Linked DNA regions of Homo sapiens. The protein of the gene in region 1 purifies or fractionates together with the protein of each later gene. This does not show direct contact. Each region holds a gene or a part of one and is shown in the gene's direction. Other genes may lie near its edges.

Region 1 (3,681 bases):
GGGGAGGGAGAGGAGAAAGAGGGACTATAAAGGGCACAGTACCTAGTACCTGTAAAGGGTAAATAGTAGTAGGTGCTTAAATGTTTGGTATCATCACAGCCTTACTATTCTTATCTCTTAGGTGAGAGACTTTGCCTGTTTCATCACTCATAAAATTAGGAGTAAGAATAAACTACCTCATAAGATAGCTCTGAGGATTAAGCTCAACTTGGGTCTTATCTGGATATAAAGCCTGGCCAGCATCTCTTAACTTTAGAGAGCCCTAAATCAGGACCAGGAAATAGCTCATTCATTTATGCCTTATCATCTCCACTGCACTTAACTCCTAGTCTATAATAACTCTGCCCTGAGCTAGAGGCCAGCCTTGAGATCCTTTTTTTTTTTTTAAACTCGCTGAGGCCTCGCAAAACACTTTTTAAGCCATAAAGCACTCCTATGTGAGATACAGCCTGTCATCACCTTTACCACCTCTTCCTCATGTAAACAGCCCTATCTGAAACTCTCTTATGTGTGCCCTCACCTTCTACCCTTCAGATTCACTACAGAAACTTCCTTCTTGGCCTGCATACATACCTGCAAACAACCTCTCCTCTCTCCCAGCGGCGAACACTAGACTTAGAGCCTCAGGGGCGTGAACTCTCCTTGTTGACCTCTGTAGCCTTGTGACCGTATTGTGAATATGCGGCTAACCAAGAAGAGTCTACTTGATATTTGCTTTTACACCATAACTGCCCCCCCATCACTATCACCAAACCAAGGCATTTGAAAAATCAAATTCTTCTTAGTTACAAAATGGGAAAAAATAGAAATGGAGATTAATTAGACTCTGTCCCAAAAGTATGTTTCTACTTCTTAGCTCTTCTTTCTTCCTTGACTTTTTTCCAGACTTTTTCTTGTCTCCTTTACTTCTGTTTAGTAAGCCTCTATTCATTTATCAATTTTATTACTTTACTCTCAAAAAGAAGCTAGCTATTGTGTGATTTTTTTTTTATATATAGCAAGCATATTTCAGATTTTTTTAACCACAGCATTTAACCTGAAAAAATGAATTTTTAAAAAATCAAATGATCTTGGCTGGGCACGGTGGCTCACGCCTATAATCCCAGCACTTTGGGAGGCTAAGGCAGGTGGATCACTTGGGTCAGGAGTTCAAGACCAGCCTGGCCAACATGGTGAAACCCTGTCTCTACTAAAAATTCAAAAATTAGCCAGGTGTGATACGCGCCTGTAATCCCAGCTACTGGGGAGGCTGAGGCACGAGAATCACTTGAACCAGGGAAGCAGAGGTTGCAGTGAGCCAAGATCATGCCACTACACTCCAGCCTGGGCAACAGAGCAAGACTCTGTCAAAAAAAAAAAAAAAGTCAAATGACCTTGAGTTATCTTAAAGCAATTGGTTTCTGTTCTCCTTAGGCTATAGGGAGCATTACAACAGATAAAACATAAAATGTGCTATGGACATTTAAAAACAAAAAGGCAACACACTCTTTTTTTTTTTTTTTTTTTTTTTTTCCTTTTTGAGATGGAGTCTCGCTCTGTCGCCCAGGCTGGAGTGCAGTGGCGTGATCTCGGCTCACTGCAAGCTCCACTTCCCGGGTTCACGCCATTCTCCTGCCTCAGCCTCCTGAGTAGCTGGGACTACAGGCGCCCGCCATCATGCTCGGCTAATTTTCTGTATTTTTAGTAGAGACGGGGTTTCACCGTGTTGGCCAGGATGGTCTCGATCTCCTGACCTCGTGATCCACCCGCCCTGGCCTCCCAAAGTGCTGGGGTTACAGGTGTGAGCCACCACGCCCGGCAACACACTCTTTTTCCCTTTTTAAGGAAGAGAAAGGCAGAGAGCACCAAGCAGATAGGAGGCAGGGAGCTGGAAGTCCTCCCTTTGATAAAGGAGGCAGTTAGTTGAGAGTCCTCTAAAGAGGCTATAGATTGATGCAGCTGGGAAACGGATGGGAAGAGGTGAAGGTTGCAGAGCCAGGAAGGGCACAGTTTTTTTTGCCTTTAGAAACCTCCCTTTTCCTTAACCCTAATGATTCTTTCATGTTTTTCCCTTTCTTCACAACATCATTCCCTGATTCCTTGAAAATATGAAAAATCCTAAAAAGACCATGCATTGTAATTGCTTTCATTTTTTCAATAAAACTTCTTTAGTGTTTCATTATGGAGAAATTAGGGGAAAAAAAGCAGATAAATGGGAGAAATTAAAAAGAAGAAACCCTCTCCTCTGTATAGTCCCATCACCAAGAGATAACTGTTGGCAATATCCAGTAAATATTCTTCGAATGTTTGTCATATATATAGTTGTTTTTAAGCATTTGTTTTCATTCCAGAAATATACATTTTAATCTAAGTGTCATTTCTTCATACATCCAGAACAGGTATATTTACATTTTCTGTCAGTTGTTACAGAAGATGGCCCAGAGCCCAAGGACAAAGGATCATTGCCACAACCACCCATTACTGAAGTGGAATCACAGGTGTTCTCAGAAAAACTTGCTACTGACACCTCTACATTTGAAGCTACCTCTGAGGGTACCTTAGAACTGCAGCAGAGAAATCCCAAAGCGGAGAGACTGAGGTGGTCCCCTGCCCAGGAGGAAAGTTTCAGGCAGATGGTTGTCATCCATAAGGAAATTCCCACAGGGAAGAAAGACCATGAATGTAGTGAATGTGGTAAAACCTTCATTTATAACTCACATCTTGTTGTCCACCAGAGAGTTCATTCTGGAGAGAAACCCTATAAGTGTAGTGACTGTGGGAAAACTTTCAAACAGAGCTCAAACCTCGGTCAGCATCAGAGAATTCATACAGGAGAGAAACCCTTCGAATGTAATGAATGTGGGAAGGCCTTCAGATGGGGTGCTCATCTTGTTCAGCATCAGAGGATTCACTCAGGAGAGAAGCCCTATGAGTGTAATGAGTGTGGGAAGGCCTTTAGTCAAAGCTCATATCTAAGTCAGCATCGGAGAATTCACAGTGGAGAGAAACCTTTTATATGTAAAGAATGTGGGAAAGCTTATGGATGGTGCTCAGAGCTCATTAGACATCGGAGAGTTCATGCCAGAAAAGAGCCTTCCCATTGAATTGAAGGGGAGAACGTCTCCAGACAGAATTCTACATCGGTCTAATCTACTTTAGGACTGGATCCCATAAAAGTTATAAGTTCCTTAAGATTTTTCCTGTGTCTTTCTTGATTTTGGAAAAACTGTTTACTTAGTTCTGCCTGTAGATCATCCCTTCATGTCCTCTGATGAAGATACTGATATTAATTAGGATGCTTTGGATGCAAGTAGTAGCCAAGTTGTTTTGCTTCTTTCCAGCATGATCTGCCTAGTTTGCCCACCAATAATGTCTACCTCATTAGAATTTTGTTGTTGTTGTTGTTTGAGACGGAGTCTTGCTCTGTCGCCAGGCTAGAGTGCAGTGGCACGATCTCAGTTCACTGCAACCTCCACCTCCCGGGTTCAAGCAGTCCTCCTGCCTCAGCCTCCCAAGTAGCTGGGACTACGGGCATGTGCCACCATGCCCAGCTGATTTTTTATATTTTTAGTAGAGACGGGGTTTCACCATGTTGGTCAGGCTGTTCTCGATCTCTTGACCTCGTGATCTGCCCACCTCTGCCTCCCAAAGTGCTGGGATTACAGGCCTGAGCCACCATGCCTGGCTACTTCATTAGAATTT
Region 2 (7,038 bases), on another chromosome or scaffold:
TTTCCACCTTTTGCTTATTTTGAGTAGTACTTCTCTGAACATTTGCATACAAGTTTTGGTCTGAACATCTGATTTCAGTTCTTTACCTGGGAGTGGAATTACTGGGTCATACACAGTCAATTCTGTGTTTAACTTAACCGAACCGCGAAACTTCCACAGTGGTTGTACCGATTTACATTCCCACCAGTGATGTATGAGGGTTCAAATGCTTCATCATCCTCATAAACAGGTACTATTTTCTGTTTTTCTGGTTAGGCCCTCCTACTTGGGTGTGAAGTGATGCATCTTTGTAGTTTTGATTTGCATTTTCCTAGTGACTAATGAGTTCAGCGTCTTTTCATGTGCTCGTTGCCTCTTTTCCTTTTATTGATCAATAATATGCCATCATATCTCTGTATCTACCACATTTTTAATTTGCATTCATCTGCTGATAGACATTTGGGTCATTTCTACTTTTTGGCTATTATAATGTTGCTATGAACATTAGTGTAGTAGTTTTTGTGTGGGCATTTATTTTTATTTCTCTTGGTTATAGAGCAAGAAGTGGGATTGTTGGGTTGTGTGGTAACTTTTAACTTTTTATTATTATTATTATTTTTTTTTTGAGACGGAGTCTCTCTGTGTTGCCCAGGCTGGAGTGCAGTGGCGCCATCTCGGCTCACTGCAACCTCTGCCTCCTAGGTTCAAGCGATTCTTGTGCCTCAGCCTCTGAGTCACTGGGATTACAGACGCCCACCACCACACCCGGCTAATTTTTTGTATTTTTTAGTAGAGACTGGGTTTCGCCAAGTTGGCCAGGCTGGTCTTGAACTCCTGACCTCAGGTGATCCACCTACCTCGGCCTCCCAAAGTGCTGGGATTACAGGCTTGAGCCACCGCACCCAGCTCTTTTAACTTTTATTTATTTATTTATTTTTAATGAGGTCTCACTCTGTAACACAGACTGTATTGCAGTGCAATCATGGCTCACTGCAGCCTTGAACTCCTGGGCTCAAGCAATCCTCCCGCCTCAGCCTCCTGCCACTACAGGCACATGCCACAACACGAGGCTAATTAAACAAAATTTTTTTGCTGGGCGTGGTGGCTCACGCCTGTAACCTCAGCACTGTGGGAGGCCAAGGCTGGCGGATCACGAGGTCAGGAGATCGAGACCATCCTGGCTAACGTGGTGAAACTCCGTCTCTACTAAAAATACAAAAAATTAGCCGGGCATGGTGGCGGATGCCTGTAGTCCCAGCTACTCGGGAGGCTGGGGCAGGAGAATGGCATAAACCCGGGAGGCAAAGGCAGGAGAATGGCACGAACCCGGGAGGCAGAGCTTGCAGTGAGCTGAGATACGCCACTGCACTCCAGCCTGGGTGACAGAACGAGACTCCGTCTCCAAAAAAAAAAAAAAATTTGTGGAAATGGAGTCCCACTTTGGTGCCCAAGCTGGTCTTGAACTCCTTGCTTCAAGTGATCCTCCTGCCTTGGCCCCCTGAAATGCTTGGATTGCATGAATGAAACTGTTCATGGCCTTTTTTTGGCTTTTTTTTTTTTTTTTTTTTTAAGATGAGGGTCTTGCTATGTTGTGTAGGCTGTCCTTGAACTCCTGGGCTCAATCAATACTCCTGCCCCAGCTTCCCTGGTAGCTGGGACTGTAGGCACGAACCACCATGTCTGTGTTTAATATTTTGAGGAATTGTCAGGTTACTTTCCAGAGTGGCTGCGCTATTTTACATATTCACAAGCAGTATATGAGGATTCCAATTGCTCTATGTCCCTATACTTGTTACTGCCTTTTTTCTTTTAGCCATCCTAGTGGGTGCGAAGTGGTGTCTTATGTTTTGATTTGTGTTTCATTGATGACTAATCACGTTAAACATCTTTTTGTGTACTTATTGGCCATTCATATATCTTTTTTGAGAAATGTCTGTTTAAATCCTTTGCGTGCTTTTAAATTGAGTTGCCTTTTGTTATTGAGTTGTGATCTTTTTTTGGTCTTGTTTTTGTTTTGTTTTTTTTTTTCAGACGGAGTCTCACTCTGTCACCCAGGCTGGAGTGCAGTGATGCCATCTCGGCTCACTGTAACCTCCGCCTCCCAGGTTCAAGCGATTCTCCTGCCTCAGCCTCCCGAGTAGCTGGGACTACAGGCGCACACCGCCACGCCTAGCTAATTTTTTTTTTTTTTTTTTTTTGGTATATTTAGTAGAGACGGGGTTTCACTATGCTGGCCAGGCTGGTCTCAAACTCCTGACCTTGTGATACGCCCACCTCAGCCTCCCAAAGTGCTAGGATTACAGGCGTGAGCCACTGCATCCAGCCAAGTTGTGTTCTTTATATATACTGCATATAAGTCCCTTATTAAATATATGATTTGCAAATATTTTTTCTAATTTCTATGGCTTTTAATTTTATTGGTGGTATCATTTTCAGTACAAAAGCTTTTCATGTTGATGTAGTCCAATTTCTTCTTCTTCTCCGCCTTCTTATTCTTATCAGTGAAGCAGGGTTCTTGCTTTGTTGCCCAACCTGGAGTGCAGTGGTGTGATTGTAGCTCACTGTAGCCTTAAACTCCTGGTCTCAAGTGATCTTTTTGCCTCAACATCCCCAGTAGGTACAACTGCAAGTTGTACCACCACACCCAGCTAATTTTTTTGGTATTTTTTGTAGAGTTGGGGTCTTACTATGTTACCCAGGCTGACCTTGAACCTTTAGCCTCAAGCAGTCCTGCTTCAGCTTCCCAGAGTACTGGGATTACAGGTGTGAACCACCTGGCCCCAACATTGTACTATTTTTTTTTTGACGCTTTTGGTCTTGTAAGAAGCCACACCTCACCCAAGGTTTGAGCAGTTTTAATTAATGAATTAGTTAATTTTATGAGACAAGGTCTGGCTCTGTTGCCCAGGCTGGAGTACAGTGGTGCAATCTTGGCTCAATGCAACCTCTGCCTCCCAGGGGCTCAAGCCATCCTCCTACTTCAGCATCCCGAGTAGCTGTGACTACAAGCATGCTCCACCACACTCGGCTAATTTTTGGTGTTTTGTTTTTTTTTTTCAGATGGAGTCTGGCTCTGTTGTCCAGGCTGAGTGTAGTGGCGCAATCTTGGCTCACTGCAACCTCCGCCTCCCATGTTCAAGCGATTCTCCTGCCTCAGCCTCCTGAGTAGCTGGGATTACAGGCATGCACCACCACACCTGGCTAATTTTTTTTTTTTTTCTTTGAGACAGAGTTTCACTCTTGTTGCCCAGGCTGGAGTGCAGCGGCACAAACTCGGCTCACTGCAGCCTCCGCCTCCCAGGTTCAAGCAGTTCTCCTACCTCAGCCTCCCGAGTAGCTGGCATTGCAGGCACCACGCCCGGCTAATTTTTGTATTTTTAGTAGAGATGGGGTTTTGCCATATTGGCCAGGCTGGTCTCGAACTCCTGACCTCAAGTGATCCCCCCGCCTTGGCCTCCCAAAGTGCTGGGATTACAGGCGTGAGCCACTGTGCCTGGCCCTGTCAGCTTTTATTTAGATATCCAAAAAGCTCTCTTTCTACTCACTTTCTTCTTTTTTTTTTTTTTTTTTTTTTTTTTGAGACAAGACACTATTCACTTTCTCCTTTTTTATAGAGACAGAGTCTTGTCACATTGCCCAGGCTGGTCTCAAACTCCTGGGCTCTAGCAGTCCTCCCTCCTCAGCCTCCTAAATTGCTGGGATTCCAGACATGAGCCTTTCTCCTTTTGTTTATTTCTTCTCTTTGCAAGAAGAGACTAAATAAATAAATAGTATCACCAATATGTATTTTTCATACTTTATGCAACAATTTGTTATGAGATACCAAAGCTGAAGAATGAGGTGTTTGACCATATTCAAAGACCACATGTGTCAGGACTGTTTACATTTCTGAAAGTACTTAGGGCAATCACAGGATGAAAGCAGTGTGTACTAAATCCTCTGTCCACAGAATTCTGCAAATATTATGTGTCTTGAGGGCAGACTTGTTTGTTAACAGTGAGGTTGGTGGTCAAGTAAGTTCCTGGAAGTAAAATTGTTGGGTAAGGGATGTGTGTTTTTCATATTGATCCATGTTGCTAAATTGCCCCTCAGAATGAGGGTTTCTCTTTACATTTCCCTGTCAATGTGTAAGAGTATCTTACATATACATCATACCCTCACCAACATAATGTGTTAGTCACACTTTCTGATCTAAGTGCAAAGGGTTTCATATGTTTAATATGTATTTATTTTGTTACAATTTCTTTTTGTTACAGTTAATCTTTTGATGTGAAATTTGTTTTGTTTTGTTTTTGAGACGGGGTCTTACTATGTTGCTTAGGCTGGTCTCAAACTCCTGGGCTCAAGGGATCTTCCTTCCTCAGCTTCCTGAATAGCTGGGATTACAAGTGCATGTCACCATGCCCAGCCTTGATATGAATTTTCAAAGGCTGGATTTACTTATGCTTCCAGCCGTGTATAGGGAGTACAATGTCTGTTTTGTTCTCATTAGGGAAACATCATATGACTATTACTAAATTAAAACATTACAGAAATGTGTGAAGCACTCTAGAAAGCCAGTGTCATGCCACCTTACTTCAGTGGCTTTGTAGCTCTAGTCCCAAAACCCTAATGAGGGCCACGCACGGTGGCTTACGCCTGTAGTCCCAACACTTTGTTAGGCCGAGGTGGGAGGATTACTTGAGGTCAGGAGTTTGAGACCAGTCTGGTCAACATGGCAAAAACCCATTTCTACTAAATTAGCCGGGCATGGTGGCGGCATACACCTGTAATTCCAGCTACTCAGGAGGCTGAGGCGCGAGAATTGCTTGAACCCAGGAGGTGTAGGTTGCAGTGAGCCAAGATTGAGCCACTGCACGCCAACCTGGGTGACAGAGTGAGACTCTGTCTCAATAAAAACCAACCAACCAAACAAAATAACCCTAACGAGGACCCATAGTTCCAGCTACACTGGAGACTGAGGTGGGAGGATGGCTTAAGCTTGGGAGGTGGAGGTTGCAGTGAGCCAAGACCATGCCACCGCACTCCAGCTTGGGCGATAGAGCAAGACCCTGTCTCAAAGGAAAAAGAACAAAGGGGAGTCACAATACATACTTTGTTGCAACTTGTTTCTATTCATGCATGTAGAGCTGCCTTATTTATTTATTTATTTATTTATTTATTTATTTATTTATTTATTTTTGAGAGAGTCTAGCTTTGTTGCCCAGGCTGGAGTGCAGTGCGTGAATTTGGCTCACTGCAACCTCCGCCTCCCAAGGTTCAAGTGATTCTTGGGCCTCAGCCTCCGGAGTAGCTGGGACAACAGGCATGGGCCACCATGCTTGGCTAATTTTTGTAGTTTAGTGGAGACGGGGTTTCACCATGTTGGCCAGGCTGGTCTCAAACTCCTAACTTCAGGTGATCTGCCCACCTCAGCCTCCCGAAGTGTTGAGATTACAGGTGTGAGCCACCGCACCTGGCTATTCTTTTTTCGTTTGTTTGTTTTGAGACAGAATCTTGCTCTGTTGCCAGGCTGGAGTACAGTGGTGCAATCTCGTCTCACTGCAACCTCTGCCTCCCGGGTTCAAGCAATTCTCCTGCCTCAGCCTCCTGAGTAGCTGGGACTACAGGGGCGCCCCACCACACCCGGCTAATTTTTGTATTTTTAGTAGAGATATGGTTTCACTGTGTTGGCTAGGATGGTCTCGATCTCCTGACCTCGCGATCTGCCCACCTTGGCCTCCCAAAGTGCTGGGATTACAGGCATGAGCCACTGCGACCGGTCCTATTCTTTCTTAAAAAATATTCTTATGTATGTTTATGATATATAACATAGCATACATACAGATAGTAAAATGGTAACTGTAATGAAGCAGATTGACATCTGTTATCTCACAGTTACAAATTTTGTGTGTGGCAAGAGAAGCTAAAATCTCATTTAGCAGGAGCCCCAAATACATACCTGCCTTATTATTATTATTATTATTATTATTATTATTATTATTATTATTTTGAGACGGAGTCTCGCTCTGTCACCCAGGCTGGAGTGCAGTGGCGTTATCTGCTCTCACTGCAACCTCCACCTTTTGGGTTCAAGTGATTCTCCTGCCTCAGCCTCCCGAGTAGCTGGGATTACAGGCGCATGCCACCATACCCACCTAATTATTGTATTTTTAGTAGAGCCACCACACCCAGCCAGTTACATAGTTTTTTAAAAATAGAGATGGGGTCTTGCTTTGCTGCCCTGACTGGTCTTGAATTCCTGGCTTCAAGCAGTCCTTCCACCTTGCCCTCCCAAAGTGCTGGGATTACAGGTGTGAGCCACTGTGCCTAACCTTCATTATAATTTATTTAACCAGTTTCCTGTTGATGGACTTTGGGGTTTCCGGTTTTTGATAATACAACCCGTGCTGCCCTAGCCAGCCCTCTGCATCGATCTTGAGTGTTGAGTGAGTGTTTTCACTTAGGTTGCTAGATGAGAAATTGCTGAGGTAAAGGGACTGCTTAGAATTTTGATAGATGTCAAAAGTTCATACCATTTATCCTGGTCCTCTAGAGTGAGTGTGCCTATTACCTTATACAAAGCATTTCTATTCCCAGCTTCCATCTGATTAGCGAAAAATAGCATCTTATTTTCATTTGCCATTTTTTGCTGGTGACATTGAGCATCTTTTTAATTTTATTTTTTAGTTTTATAGAGATAGGATCTCATGTTTTGCCCAGGCCGGTCTTGAACTCCTGGGCCCAAGAAATCCTCAGCCTTGGCCTCCCAAAGTGCTGGGATTACAGGCGTGAGCCACTGTGTCCCTTCTCCTTTTTATATTTACTTGCCATTTGTATTTCTCCTGTGAATTGTGTGTTCTGGATTGTTGGTCATTTTCTTACTGATTTTCAAGAGCTTATTGAATATTTCTTTCTTTTTTTTTTTTTTTTTTTTGAGACCGAGTCTCAGTCTGTTGCCCAGGCTGGAGTGCAGTGGTGTGATCTCAGCTTGCTGCAACCTCTGCTTCCTGGGTTCAAGCGATTTTCCTGCCTCAGCCTCCCAAGTAGCTGAGACTACAGGTGCCTGCCACTATGCCT
Region 3 (7,122 bases), on another chromosome or scaffold:
TCATGGACTGAAAGACCCACATTGTAAAGACGTTAATTCTCCCCCAAGTTGAGCTACTGAATCTTAACCAAAATCCTGAAAGTTTTTGTTTCTCTTTATGGGACTTGACAAGCAAATTGTAAAATTTACATGGAAGGGCCGGGCGCGGTGGCTCACGCCTGTAATCCCAGCACTTTGGGAGGCCGAGGCGGGCGGATCACGAGGTCAGGAGATCGAGACCATCCCGGCTAAAAGGGTGAAACCCCGTCTCTACTAAAAATACAAAAAATTAGCCGGGCGTAGTGGCGGGCGCCTGTAGTCCCAGCTACTTGGGAGGCTGAGGCAGGAGAATGGCGTGAACCCGGGAGGCGGAGCTTGCAGTGAGCCGAGATCCCGCCACTGCACTCCAGCCTGGGCGACAGAGCGAGACTCCGTCTCAGAAAAAAAAAAAAAAAAAAATTTACATGGAAGCACAAAGGGCCAAAACTAGCCTAAGATCCTCATGAAAAATAAGATGGGAGGACATACCCTACACTATTATGGCAATGTAGAACTGGCACATAAATAGGCAAATTGAGCAATGGAACACAATACAAAGCCTTTCTTGACTTTCTATATTCACATACATATGGACACATGACACATGACAGAGATGACAAGGCAAATCAAGGAGAAAAAAATAATCCAAATAGATATATATTTTATATATAATACTGTTTTTTAAATGTATATTTTGGTCCATATAAATCTTCCTCATTTTTTTTTAACATTTATAGTATTTGCGGAGAAAAAAATAAGTCTAAATTCATACCTGAATCTTTATGTCATTCCTCACTCCCTCAAAAAACCCAAAATAGAAATCACAAAAAAATAGGATGAAAACACAGAAACTTTTAAAATCTTAGATTAGGAAACACCTTTCTAAGCAAAACTAAGTAAAATCTTTACACCAAAATTTTTTTTTTAATTCTGCATGGACAAACATCTCATCAACAAAGTTAAAATTTAAAACCCCCAAACCTAGGAGAAATACTTGTAATATATATGGCAACCCAAGACCTAATTTCCTTAATATATAACAAGTGCCTACAAATTCATAAGAAGAAACCAAACAACTCACCATTAAAAAAAATTTAAAAAAGATTACCAAAAAAGTCAGGTTACCAATTACTTTGGAGGAAGAGTGGAAGGGGGAAAAGGGTTGTGGCTGGGATGGGCCAAATGGAGAGATTTCTGAGGTAATTATCAAAGTTTTATTTTTTGACTAGCATGATGGTAAGGGTGTTCACCTCATAATAATTAGTAAACTTTACGTTTATTTTGTGTCTGCATTTTTACAATAAAAAGGTAAACAACAAAAACAATTCAATAGAAACTGGCAAAGAACACAAATGAGGAATTCAAAGAAAAAACAAATACCTTTTAAATACAGAAAAAGTACATTCATAAGCTCATATATAATTTATGAAAATCCAAATTAAACAAGCATTAATTTTCATTCAGAATGGCAATAATGTAAAATTGGTAAGAGATAATACTGGCAAGCATGTGAAATAAGAGGCTTGCACTGTTGGTGGAACAATCACTTTGTATGATAATATCCATCAAAATTTTACATGCATTTCTTGTGATCCAGAAGTTCTATTCTTAGGAATAATCCTAAAGATAGATATGTCTGCATAAGTCTATACAATTATGTTTACTGGCACATTACTTAGAGAAAAAAAAACTTTAAAGGTATGAACTCTGCAACCAGACTATACAGGTTTAAATCTGTTTTGATATTTAAAAGCTATGAGACTTGGGCAAGTCACTTAAACTTTCTATGCCTCAGTTTCCTTTCCTATAAAATGAAGATAATATTAAATACTCCCTAGGGTTATGACAATTAAATGAGTATATAAATATATATATATAAGTACTGTAGCTAGCATATAAAGAGCTTTATCAGTGTTAGCTATTAACAATTTGAATGTCAACTAGTAGAAGGCTGAAAATCTCACCTGCTATACCCATAAGATACAGTTTAAGTTCACAAAGCCAAAATCAGTCATCATGAATTTTAGAATATTTTTAAGCGAAAAAGTCAAACATAAATATTTCTTTACTGACCACCAAAATACATTATCAATATGCAAAAGTAATGCAAAACTCTGCACATGTGGTGGGGGCGGAGGGTGAGGGATAAATATTCAACAAATTATCTGGCTTGGCGATTTAATGTGGCAGTAGAATAAAAACATATAGAAACATTTAAGAGTTTGCTCTCTACCGCTTGAGGATGCAAGATGTAAGCTGTATGTAACCTGGAAGAGGGTCATCAACAGAACCAGAAAATGATGGCACCCAGATCTTGAATCTCCAGCCTCTAGACCTGTGAGAAATAAATTTCAGTTGTTTAATTAAAACACACACACACACACACACACTTAAGAGTTGAACTTTTCCCGTTCCCACATTTTGTATCCTTAAACCTATCTTCCTGGAAAGGGAACAAGTCAACTTTTTGAGGTCCCCAGTTAGGACTACAATACTTAATCATTTATTGAAGAAAAACAGTATCTCTTTATTTAGGGATAATACTATACTTAAAGAAACTCGTACTATTAATTGGGAAAAGATTAATATACATGAAATAAGCAAAAAATACCCACATAATTCTAAAATACATTCATTTATTCAACAAATATGTTAATGTGTGCCATTGGTCAGACACTGGCTTTAGCTGTGTAGATGAAAAAGTCTTTGTACTTGTAGAGCTTCCATTCTCATGCAGACAATATAAATGAATGGATAACTAAATACATGATATGATTTCAGGTAGTCAGAAGTGCTATGAAATGGTAAAGTATACAACACTGCCTGCAAGTACTATCGGAATTCAGGATAGGGAAGCTTAGAAAAACCAACCCGGAAGGAATTAGTCCATAATAATGCTTAATAAATGTTAACTAGCTACATTATTATTATCATTATCATTATCATCTTCATCCTCATTATTGCATTGGTCTCTGAAAGATGAGAAGCTGTAAACATGAAGGCTAAATCGCTGTGGAGATGCTTTCAAGCATAAAAACATAAGAGTAGGAGGCAAGAACGAACAAGGGAAATTTGTGAGACACAAAAGAAAGTAGTCTGATGAGAGCAGAGGGCAGAGAAGAAATGAGACTTGCTAGGTAGAATGGTCAAATAATGGGAACCTTTGAAATAAAATAAAGTGCCTACTATGGGGGGGCAGTTCCTTCCCTGTACGTGGTGCCTATCTCAAGGCAAAAGTAGAGAAGAGATTTACGACGAGGATTTTATTAGGTTGGTGCAAAAGTAATTGCAGAGAAAAAAGAAGTGTTTTACGGAGGTCATTTTGACAAGCTGTATTTGATTTTTTAAAAAAGAGATTAAGATAATACATTTTATGTTATGTGCTTTTTACCTAATTTTTTAAAAATGAAGAAGACAGATGAGGAGGAGGAGAAAGAGTTCAGATGACTGCTAGGAGATGAAATCCTATACCAGAGAGAAGAAAGAAGAGTGACCCGTTCTGCCCTAGGTCTTTTGGTTATTTGAAGTAGCTGCTTCTCCACCCCACCCCCAGAAACAGTAACAAGCACTCACCACCTTCTTCAGAGAGTGTGTGAGAGAATAAAGGTCAGGAGAGAAAACATGTTTAGTGCATCTGAAAGGAAACCCGCGAGTTAACCACTTCCTTCTGTCCCCACCCTTCCATCTTTCTCTAAATATTGGTGAGGTTATGGAGCTTGCGTTGGCGCGCGGGAAGCCGAGAAGAACGGGACTCAAAGCCCGGCTGGGAAGTCAGGTATCTAGTTGGCCGGCGATAAGGGTTTCACCTTCAGGACTGGAGCTCCACAAGATTCAACCGTTATATCAACCTCCCCGGCCCAGGTCTTACCATCACAGCGTCACAAACTCCAGGTCGCCTAGGCGCTGCGCAGGAAGCGCTTGCCAGCCCCGGACTTCTGCGCGCGCTGCATGCCCATTGGATGTGCTCATTCCCACCCCAGCCAATCCCGAAACTCGCTCGGACGCTGACAGAAGACTGCGCCGCTGCTTTGGGATTGGTAGCTGAGTTTTGTGTCGCGCCTTTTCTGACGATGCGAACAACATGGCGGCGGAAAGTGGTAGCGATTTTCAGCAGAGACGTAGAAGGCGCCGGGACCCGGAGGAACCGGAAAAAACAGAACTCAGCGAAAGAGAGCTGGCAGTAGCAGTGGCGGTGTCCCAGGAGAACGATGAGGAGAACGAAGAGCGCTGGGTTGGACCTTTACCTGTGGAGGCAACACTGGCCAAGAAGAGGAAAGGTAGCTGCAGACATAGTACCGGGACGAATTGGAGTGCTGCGTCCGCTGAGTAGGAGGGTTCAAGCCAGATCCGAAGAGGGATGATGTGTGGAGTTTTGTGCCCTCAGAACAGAGGGCCGTCCTCTCACTTCTGGCTACTCCATACTTGCATGTCTTAACGAAATAGTGATTTAAGCGTAGTACAACGTCTTTTTGATAATATCTAACACTTTTGATCATTGATTTGTTATGACAGATGCTAAAACTAACATTTTCCTATTCTTATGTGTTTGGCTCCTCTCATTTACTCCCCACAGCAGCCACATGAAGTTGGAATTTCGAACTCTTATTTAGGTATGCAAAAGGGTACCAGTTCTCTTTAAGGCTTTAGTTCAGGAGTGGTGTTAATGTATTAATGTGTTGGGGCGCGAGAGGAAGGCGGTGCTTATTTCGAATCATGGTAGGTAAAGATAATTTCAACTCTGACACTTCCACTAATAAATTTTCGCATCTAGGGAAAATGACGTAAGCTTCCTAGATCACAGATTTGTTTTCATCCAAAACCCGAAGTCTGTGGTTTTGAAATCACGCTCTTGATACGATGGGCTGAGTCTTTTTGTCACTAACGAGGAATAATCACAAATTATTATCAAATAAAAGGGGTGGGAAAAGGGGTAGATTAAGTTTTCTTGTCTTTGTTGTTTTGTTATCTTGTTTTTCTGTGAAATGTTTTCCTTAAGTATTTAAGACATTTTAAATGTGGTCTAAGCTCAAATCGTACTTTAGCACCTTCCCTTAAAAAACTTCAATGATTTGTCATTATTTTCTCTCTCTTTTTTTTTTTTTTTTTTTTTTTTGAGACGGAGTCTCGCTCTGTCGCCCAGGCTGGAGCGCATGCAGTGGCGCTATCTCGGCTCACCGCAACCTCCGTCTCCGGGGTTCAAGCGATTCTCCTGCCTCAGCCTCCCGAGTAGCTGGGGCTACAGGCGCACGCCCAGCTAATTTTTGTATTTTTAGTAGGGACGGGGTTTCACCATGTTGGCCAGGATGGTCTTGATTTCTTGACCTCGTAATCTGCCTGCCTCGGCCTCTCAAAAGTGCTGGGATTACAGGCATGAGCCACGGCGCCCAGCTCATTATTTTCATTAAAGCCCAAACTCCCTCACATGGCATATAAAGCCCTTTATGATGTGATCTCTCCTTACCTTCTTAGTGCATCTTCCATTACCTTCCTCTCCCAACCCCTTACTTTGTACTCCACCCATTCTAAAATCACTCGAGAATCGGTCTTGTACTTTTTTTTCCTCTGGATTCCTACCCAGATATGGTGTTTCTACCGGGAATAATTTCCCTCAACTCTTCCACTGAACTGACTTTTGGTCAACCTTTAGCACTTAGCTATCATCTTCTCTGGGAAGCCTGTGACTTCTCCAGTCTGGACTGGATTTCTGAAGCACTTTGATCATAACTCTGAGGTAGTTATATATCAATACTGAATTTACAGGTAGCCTTCAAATTTTATGTATCCAAATTTTGAAGAAGCTGTTTTTTTGAACGTTGTATATTGACACCCTTACAGTGCATTATCATTTTTACTTCCTGGTCCTCTTATTAAATGTTTCCATAGTAACCATTTTATTTATGGCACTTGCCGCAGTTTCTAATTATATATTTATTCATGTGATTGATGAATGTTTCTCTCCACTGCTAAGACTGTAAACAAGTAAGAACCAGAATCACGCCTTTTTTGTTTCATTGCTTGGTGTACAGTGCTTTGCCTAAGTATTTAATGACTGCATATTAAAGCTTTTATGCTGGTCTTTAGCTATTTTGTTGCATATGAATATTTTTGCAAGTTCTTTTTTAATTAAACGAGTAAGGAGAAATGTAAAAATCCAGAAATATCGAAATGCTGATATTAGTGTTACCGGACAAGTGTCTTATAAACTTAATATAACGGAGACAGATATAAATTAGTAGGTGTGAAAATCTTTCCTCTTAATCAGTTATTTATTGTTTTAAGACAGCCAATAGTTGGCCGGGTGTGGTGGCTGATGCCTGTAATCCTGGCACTTTGGGAGGCTGAGGCGGGCAGATCATCAGGTCAGGAGTTCTAGACCAGCCTGACCAACATGGTGAAACCCCGCCAGTCTCTACTAAAAATACAAAAAAATTAGCCGGGCGTGGTGGCGCACACCTATAATCTCAGCTATTCAGGAGGCTGAGGCAGGAGAATCACTTGAACCCAGGAGGCAGAGGTTGCAGTGAGCTGAGATTGTGCCACTGTACTTCAGCATGGGCAACAGAGCAAGACTCCGTCTCAAAAAAAAAAAAAAAAAAAGCCAATAGTTTATTCAGTTTGAAGAAAAAAATTGAAACTAAAAAACATACATAGAATGTTACAAAAATATTTAAAATTTTGTCTAAATGGACAAGTATTTAACAATTTCAGCTTTCTAGAAATGGAGTCACCCCCTTTAACATGTTCTTTGGACATTGGACTGTTGTATATATTTTCAGAAAGACATGATTATATAGCACTATATCTCTTCAGGACAGGAACTGTGTTTTACTCTTCTTTATGCCCATGTGACCTAGAACGTATTGTGTTCTTAGTAAGTATTTGTCCACAAGTGAACTATCACACAGAAAAAGGAATCTGGATCAGATAGGATTAAGTTTATCTACATACTACAGAAAAACCCAAAATAACGATGTTGAAGAGATAGAGCTGTACTTTTATGTGTAGAAGTACCAAGACAGGCAGGCAGTCCAGGATTGGTGTGGAGGCTCCAGAAGTTCCTAGGCTCTCTCCAGCTTTCTGCCCAACATAACTAAGGTACAGCCC
Region 4 (7,136 bases), on another chromosome or scaffold:
CCTTTCACTTTGCTTGTGTTTGTCTTTAATGGTGAGGTGAGTCTCTTGTAGGCAGCAATATGTTGGGTCTTGCTTTTTTGTTGTTTTTTGTTTTTTTTGAGTCAGAGTTTCACTCTTATTGCCCAGGATGGAGTGCAATGGCACAATCTCAGCTCATTGCAACCTCTGCCTCCTGGGTTCAAGTGATTCTCCTGCCTTACTTCCACTCACATAAAGGAAGCCCCGGATTGGTTTATAGATGGCAGCCATCAAAAAACCCTCCCCTCCAAGAGGATATGCCATTACTGAGGGATATCATGATGATACCCACTCTCTCCCACCTAGAAGAGTTGTAGAGGCTGCCCCCTTGCCTTTGGGCACATCCTACCAAAAAGCAGAAATTAATTGCCCTAATAAGAGCATTAACCCTAGCAAAAACCACACAAGTTAATATATACACCAATTCCAAATATGCCTATAACATCAACCATTCCAATGCCCAAATGTGGAGCAAGTGGGGCTATCTCATGGTTAAGGGAACAACTATCATTAATGGAAAACCAATCCATCATCTACTAAAGGCAGCTTTACTTCCAGGAAAGGTTGCAGTTATTCATTGCAAAGACATCAATCAGATAAAAGCTACATTTCTTTAGGGAACTGTGAGGCTGACTATTGTGCTCAACCAATCACCCAATTCCCCAATACCTATTTCCCCTCATACAACATATCCCCTCCTTTTATCCAGAACACCAAATACAACAACTAATCATGGCAAGGGCACAATTCAAACCCCCATACTGGTTCATACAAAACAAATTAGTCCTACCTGACCCTGAAAAAGCAACTCTTTCACAGGACATTCACAACCTCTTCCACACTAGCCATTGCCCTCTACATTTCTTAAGTTCCCATATACACATAACCCCAGATATAAAGGAACAGTTAAAAGCCATTCCCCATCAACGCTCTATTTGCCAGAAAACTTCACCCCACTGCAACACTAGACCCCCTTCTTTCCCAACCTGTCAAGCCAGGGGACACCTTCCAGGACAGGACTGGCAAATTGATTTTACCCATATGCCCCCAGTAAAAAAAGGTTCAATTTCTGGCCGGATGTGGTGGCTCACACCTGTAATCCCAGCACTTTGGGAGGCTGAGGTGAGCGGATCACTTGAGGTCAGGAGTTCAAGGCCAGCCTGACCAACATGGAGAAACCCCATCTCTACTAAAAATACAAAATTAGCTGGGCATGGTGGCGCATGCCTGTAATCCCAACTACTCAGGAGGCTGAGGCAGGATAATCACTTGAACCAAGGAGGTGAAGGTTGCGGTGAGCCAAGATTGCGCCATTGCACTCCAGCCTGGCAACAAGAGCGAAGCTCCATCTCAAAAAAAAAAGAAAGGAAAACAAATGAATCAGCCAGGCACGTTGACTCACGCCTGTAATCACAGCACCCAGGGAGGCTGAGGTGGGCAGATCACTTGAGGTCAGGAGTTCAAGACTGGACTGGCCAACATGGCGAAACCCCATCTCTACTAAAAATACAAAATTAGCTGGGCATGATGGGGCACTCCGGTAGTCCCAGCTACTTGAGAGGCTGCAGCAGGAGAATCGCTTGAACCCAGGAGGCAGAGGTTGCAGTGAGCCACCAAGATCACGCCATTGCACTCCAGCCAGGGTGACAAGAGCAAAACTCTGTCTCAAAAAAAAAAAAAAAGAAAAGAAAAGAAAAAGAATGAATCAAGCTTCCTATCTCCCAGAGCTCTCCTCCTATTCCTTAGGACTTAATCTTTCAGCCAGTATAAACTATTGAGACTTCAGGGCAAGAAAGACGCATGAAACTTGTGACCTACATCTACTGCTTGAAATATTGGGCCAAATTTTCAGATCTATCACTGGGGGTGGTTGGAATATCACATCTCAAAATTATCACACATCCTTACAATTTTTTATGATATCATGAATCCTACCATTTTTTCAACTCAACTCCCAAGGAAGTTAGTAATGACGATGAAACCACCATTGCAAGATTATGACTGAGACCATGAAGGAGATCTAACCTAATGGACTCCATCTTGGTTCTAACTTTAAACTGTCCTTGTTCCTTCCTGGGCATAGGCTAAACTAACTTTGGGAGGAATTTAGTTTATAGTTTAAAACAAAGACAATAACAGCCCTTTCCCAAAACAAACCTCCTCCTTGCCTGGGGACTAGACTGCCTTTATAAGATTAACAAATTAGCCACAAGATTAGAAATTATGGTTTAGGAGTCATGCAGCTGGAGGCCAAGATTCTGACCCTCCCTAAACTGCTCCTGAGACCAGTGCTTGAGATATTTTGCAGACCCTGCACTTGATGGATCAGCTGGTACCACCCAGATAGATAAACAGGCTCATCTGATCTTGTGGCCCCCACCAGGGAACTAACTCAGCGCATGAGGACAGACAGCTTCAACTTCCCATTATTTCATCTCCTACCTAACCAATCAGCGCTTCTGGCTCACTGGCTTCCCCCCACCCACCAGTTGTCCTTAAAAACTCTGATTCCCAAATGCTCGAGGAGACTGATTTAAATAATAATAAAATTTCAGTCTCCCGCACAGCTGGCTCTGCGTGAATTACTCTTTCTCTATTGCAATTCCCCGTCTTGATAAATGGACTGTGTTTAGGTAGCGGGCAAGGTGAACCCACGGGGCATTTACAATGACATCACTTGCCTTTGGATGCCCACTGAACCAGGACTCATTTCTGGGTTCCAATCTAATCCCAGTCACTGAGTTGCTGTGTAACTTGGGGCAAATTACCTTTATCCTCTTGCCTTCAGCTTTTCCTTTGGTAGGAAGGGAGCATTAGAGGAGAGATCATTTCAGTAAGGTCCTTTCTAATCCTAACAGTCTAAACAGATTATTATGAATATTAGAAGGTAATAATAAATGTTGGAGAAATTAACTTCAGTTACTCGTATAATATTTCAAATTACCAAAGGGTTTATATTAGATTTGAGGCTAATTCCAAAGGATATTTAAGGACCATAGCAGCAAGGATTAGGAGGCCCTTTTGGTCTGGACCTCACCTTCACAAGGGCCTCAAATTTAGATTTTTGAGAATATCTCCTTTAAAAGTAATTGTCAAATATGATTATAATAAGTTCATCATTCAACCTTATATATATATTTTAGAATCCTCTTATGCCTTTAGGAATAGCACAGTTAGTTCGTCCTATACTTTTTTAGGTGTTGAAAGTATTGTCAAAAAACATTTAAAATATGCCATTATTTTTGACATGCAGTTTGGGGTTATTTTAATTTTTTTTTTTTTTTTTTTTTTTTTTTTTGAGACGCAGTCTCTCTCTGTCGCTCAGGCTGAAGTGCAGTGGTACAATCTCAGCTCACTGCAACCTCTGCCTCCTGGCTTCAAGCGATTCTCCTGCCTCAGACTCCCAAGTAGCTGGGATTACAGGCGCCCGCCTCCATGCCCGGCTAATTTCTGTATTTTTAATAGAGACGGGGTTTCACCATGTTGGTCAGGATGGTCTTGAATTCCTGAACTCAAGCAGTCCACCCGCCTCGGCCTCCCAAAGTGCTGGAATTATAGGTGTGACCCACCACACCCAGCCTGGGGTCATTTTAATTTTAACGTACTAATGAAAGAAGTCTGAACTCCCTCCCTACCTCTGAGGATAATTTCCTTTTACTAGGAATTTACTCTGCAACTGGCACTTTGCTAACATTGCCTGTCATATTTTTTTTTTTTGAGTCCAGCTTCTGCAGAAGCCTGCCTAATGTTTACAAACCTACGATGCAGCCACTACAATTATCCCCATTTCAAGGTCGAAGAAATGGAGATTTATAGAAGTTGTCAAATCGCTTACTAGCACACAGCTAATAAGTAGTAAAGCCATCTCTCAAATCCAGGAAATCTAACTGCCCTGCCTGAGCTCTGAGTCAAGGGTCCTACTTTGGCTGCCAGCCAGCGACGACTTCAAGGGTAAGATCCTATGCGGGCCGTAAGGACTCTTCCCCTCCCCCTCTCCCACTTCTTCTATCCCAAAGTCGCTCTTCCCAATTCAGGGAGCTGGGACCACCCTGAGCCAGCGGCCCTGCGCATGCTCAACCGCAGAGCACGACGGGAGAGGGGCGGGGTCGGCGGGGCCGTTTCGCTTCGAAGATTGTTTCAGAAGCGTTGGGCGGGGCGTCCCTGAGAGAAATTAGTAAGCCTCCTCATGCGGCTCTGGTTTCGGTCTTTACTCCTGCGCCTTACTCGAAAGGGGCAGGGTTTCTGCTGTCGGTCGGAGGGAGGATGACGCGCCGGGTCGGGGTTTTAGAGACGGAGCTTTGAGTGCGGATTCCGCCAGATGGGGGTCGGGAACTCCGGGCCAGGCCCTGACGTGGATTGTGTTTGCCGCCTCCTTTAACCTTGCCCTCATAGACTGGGGGGGTTAGTGCTCCCCGCTTCCAGCGATTCTCGCCGCCTCCTGCTCCTGTGTAGTAACTGGGCCTTCAGACTTTAGTCTCGCTCCGCAGCCTCCGTTTCAGAAGCCCCATCACACCTGTATCTCTCCTTCATTGAGCAGTGATTTTTCAAAAGTTTGACTCCTGGCCGGGCGTGGTGCCTCAAGCCTGTAATCCCGACACTTTGGGAGGCCCAGGCGGGCGGATCTCTTGAGGTCAGAAGTTCGAGACCAGCCTGGCCAACATGGCAAAACCCCGTCTCTACTAAAAGTACAAAAATTAGCTGGGCTTGGTGGCAGGCGCCTGTAATCTCAGCTACTCAGGAGGCTGAGGCAGGAGAATCGCTTGAACCGGGAGGCAGAGGTTGCATTTAGTCGAGATCGTGCCACTGCACTCCAGAGCGAGACCCCGTCTCAAAAAAAAAAATGAAATGTTTGCTGAACCCCAAAAGCACAGTTTGAACGCTGCTGATTTACAAGATTAATTTTAAGGTATTTGGTATCAGGGACCTTCCTGACATGACCCATGTCTACTTTTCAAACTTTCCAGTTCCTTCTACTAGCACTCTTGCACTTGTACTTTATCTGCAACAACAGTCCCACTCCTTCTAGTTCCCATATATTTGTGCTTCTTTTTTTTTTTTTTTTTTTGGAGACTGGGTCTCGCTCTTTGGCCCAGGCTGAGTGCAGTGACACGATCACGGCTCACAAGCAGCCTCAGCCTTCCGAGCTTAAGCGATCCTCCCACCTCAGGTTCCAGAGTAGCTGGAACAACAGGTGCTCCCCACTACGCCCAGCTAATTTTTGTATTTTTTGTAGAGACAGGTTATCTTCATGTTGCCTAGGCTGGTCTCGAACTCCTGAATCGAAGCAATCCACCTGCTTGGGCCTCTCAAAGTGCTGGGATTACAGGCTTGAGCCACTGTGCCCGGCTATTTGTGGTTTTGTACATGCTGTCTCTATACCAGGAATATCCGCCATCATTGGTTGGTAGACACTTTAAAACCCAGCTCAAATTTCACCTCCCAGAAGACTGACCGTCTTCTTTTTTCATTTCTTCTCAGTACCTTGTATATACTTACTGGTTGGGACATCCTACTCATCAGTGTAACCCGGTACCAAGGCACTTCGGAAATGATGGCTCTTCATTGCCTGCAGAATTAACCATGGACATTTTAGTTTGGTTTGAAAAACATATAGCCTTCTGCCTCCAGCCTTCCCATCAGGCTAGTAAAAGACCTTGCAGAACTCAGTTGAATAAAATAATTTTTTTTTTTTGAGACAGCATTTCACTCTTGTCTCCCAGACTGGAGTGCAGTAGCGCGATCTCAGCTCACTGCAACCTCCACCTCCAGTTCAAGTGATTCTCCTGCCTCAGCCTCCCAAGTAGCTGGGATTACACCACACCTGGCTAATTTTTGTTTAGTAGAGACAGGGTTTCACCATGTTGGCCAGGCTGGTCTAGAACTCCGACCTCAGCTGATCCACCCTCTCAAAGTGCTGGGATTGCAGACAGGAGCCACCGTGCCCGGCCGAATAAAATAAATCTTAGCAAAGTGTAATGTATAAAGAAGTGGTATAATGCGAAGAAATAAGGGATAGGAGTATATCTGCTTCCAGACTCTGTTTTGTTTTTGCTTGTGTCCATACCACACTATCTTAATTTACTGTAGCTTTATAAGCCCTTCCAACATTTTTTTTTTTTGATATTGTCTTGGTTATGCTAGGCTCTGTATGCACATTGTATATACATTAGAATTACCTTACAAATTCCACAAAAACCCCTGCTGGGATTTTCATCTACAGCTTAATTAGGAGAAAAATTAATATTGACTCTTTCCATCAATGAGCATTTATTTAGATCTTCCTTAATTTCTCTCAGCAATGTTTTGTTTTCACTGTAGAGTTCTTTAATAGCTTTCATTAGATTTATTCCTATATTTGATATTTATGATGCTGCAGAAAATGGTTATTTTTATATTTTTCTGTTCTAGTATAAAGAAATAAAATTGATTTTTTGTTTGTTTGTTTGAGACGGAGTCGCACTGTGTCACCCAGGCTGGAATGCAGTGGCACAATCTCGGCTCACTGTAGCCTCTGACACCCAGGTTCAAGTGATTCTCCTGTTTCAGCCTCCTGAGTAGCTGGGATTACAGGTGCCCACCACCATGCCCAGCTAATTCTTTTGTATTTTTAGTAGATACGGGTTTCACCATGTTAGGCTGGTCTTGAACTCCTGACCTCAGGTAATTCACCCATCTCTGCCTCCCAAATTGCTAGGATGACAGGCGTGAGCCACTGCACCTGGCCAAAATTTATTTTCGAATGTCTTGCTAAGCTTAATAACTTGGAGATTCTTTTGAATTTTCTTTGTATAGAATCATGTCATCCATGAATAATAACAATTTTAACTGCCTTTTCAAAGTTTGTCTTTTATTTTTTCTTGCTTTATTGATCTAACTAGAACTTCTACTACAATGTTGAAGATAAGTGATAAGAAAAATTCTAAAATGCGGATCTTGTATTATCCTATAATTCTGCTGAATTCACTTATTCTAATAGTTTCTTTTGCGGGGGGTGAGTTGGGGGAGGTTCCTTAGAGTTTTCTATATGCAGTCATGTCTACAAATAAAAAGTTTTCTTCCTTTCCAACTTTTTTTTTTTTTTAAATGGAGTCATGCGCTGTCACCCAGGCTGGAGTGCA

The links.
Region 2: the proteins of ZNF232 (region 1) and USP48 purify together in Homo sapiens (affinity purification with mass spectrometry; 3 studies listed by BioGRID and IntAct, with this or other methods). This does not show direct contact.
Region 3: the proteins of ZNF232 (region 1) and PPWD1 purify together in Homo sapiens (affinity purification with mass spectrometry; 2 studies listed by BioGRID and IntAct, with this or other methods). This does not show direct contact.
Region 4: the proteins of ZNF232 (region 1) and ZMYM1 purify together in Homo sapiens (affinity purification with mass spectrometry; 2 studies listed by BioGRID and IntAct, with this or other methods). This does not show direct contact.

What each region holds. Positions count from the first base shown.
Region 1 is NC_000017.11:5,105,226-5,108,906, reverse strand, and holds the end of ZNF232 (zinc finger protein 232), read left to right. Parts: intron 1-2,373; coding exon 2,374-3,083; 3' UTR 3,084-3,171; downstream 3,172-3,681.
Region 2 is NC_000001.11:21,773,112-21,780,149, reverse strand, and holds part of USP48 (ubiquitin carboxyl-terminal hydrolase 48), read left to right. Parts: intron 1-7,038.
Region 3 is NC_000005.10:65,559,212-65,566,333, forward strand, and holds the start of PPWD1 (peptidylprolyl isomerase domain and WD repeat-containing protein 1), read left to right. Parts: upstream 1-4,084; 5' UTR 4,085-4,099; coding exon 4,100-4,295; intron 4,296-4,591; coding exon of another isoform or gene 4,592-4,628; intron 4,629-7,122. Other genes in the region: CENPK (centromere protein K), read right to left, coding at 2,286-2,300. UniProt on the Homo sapiens protein: PPIase that catalyzes the cis-trans isomerization of proline imidic peptide bonds in oligopeptides and may therefore assist protein folding. May be involved in pre-mRNA splicing.
Region 4 is NC_000001.11:35,075,251-35,082,386, forward strand, and holds the start of ZMYM1 (zinc finger MYM-type protein 1), read left to right. Parts: upstream 1-4,134; 5' UTR 4,135-4,192; intron 4,193-7,136.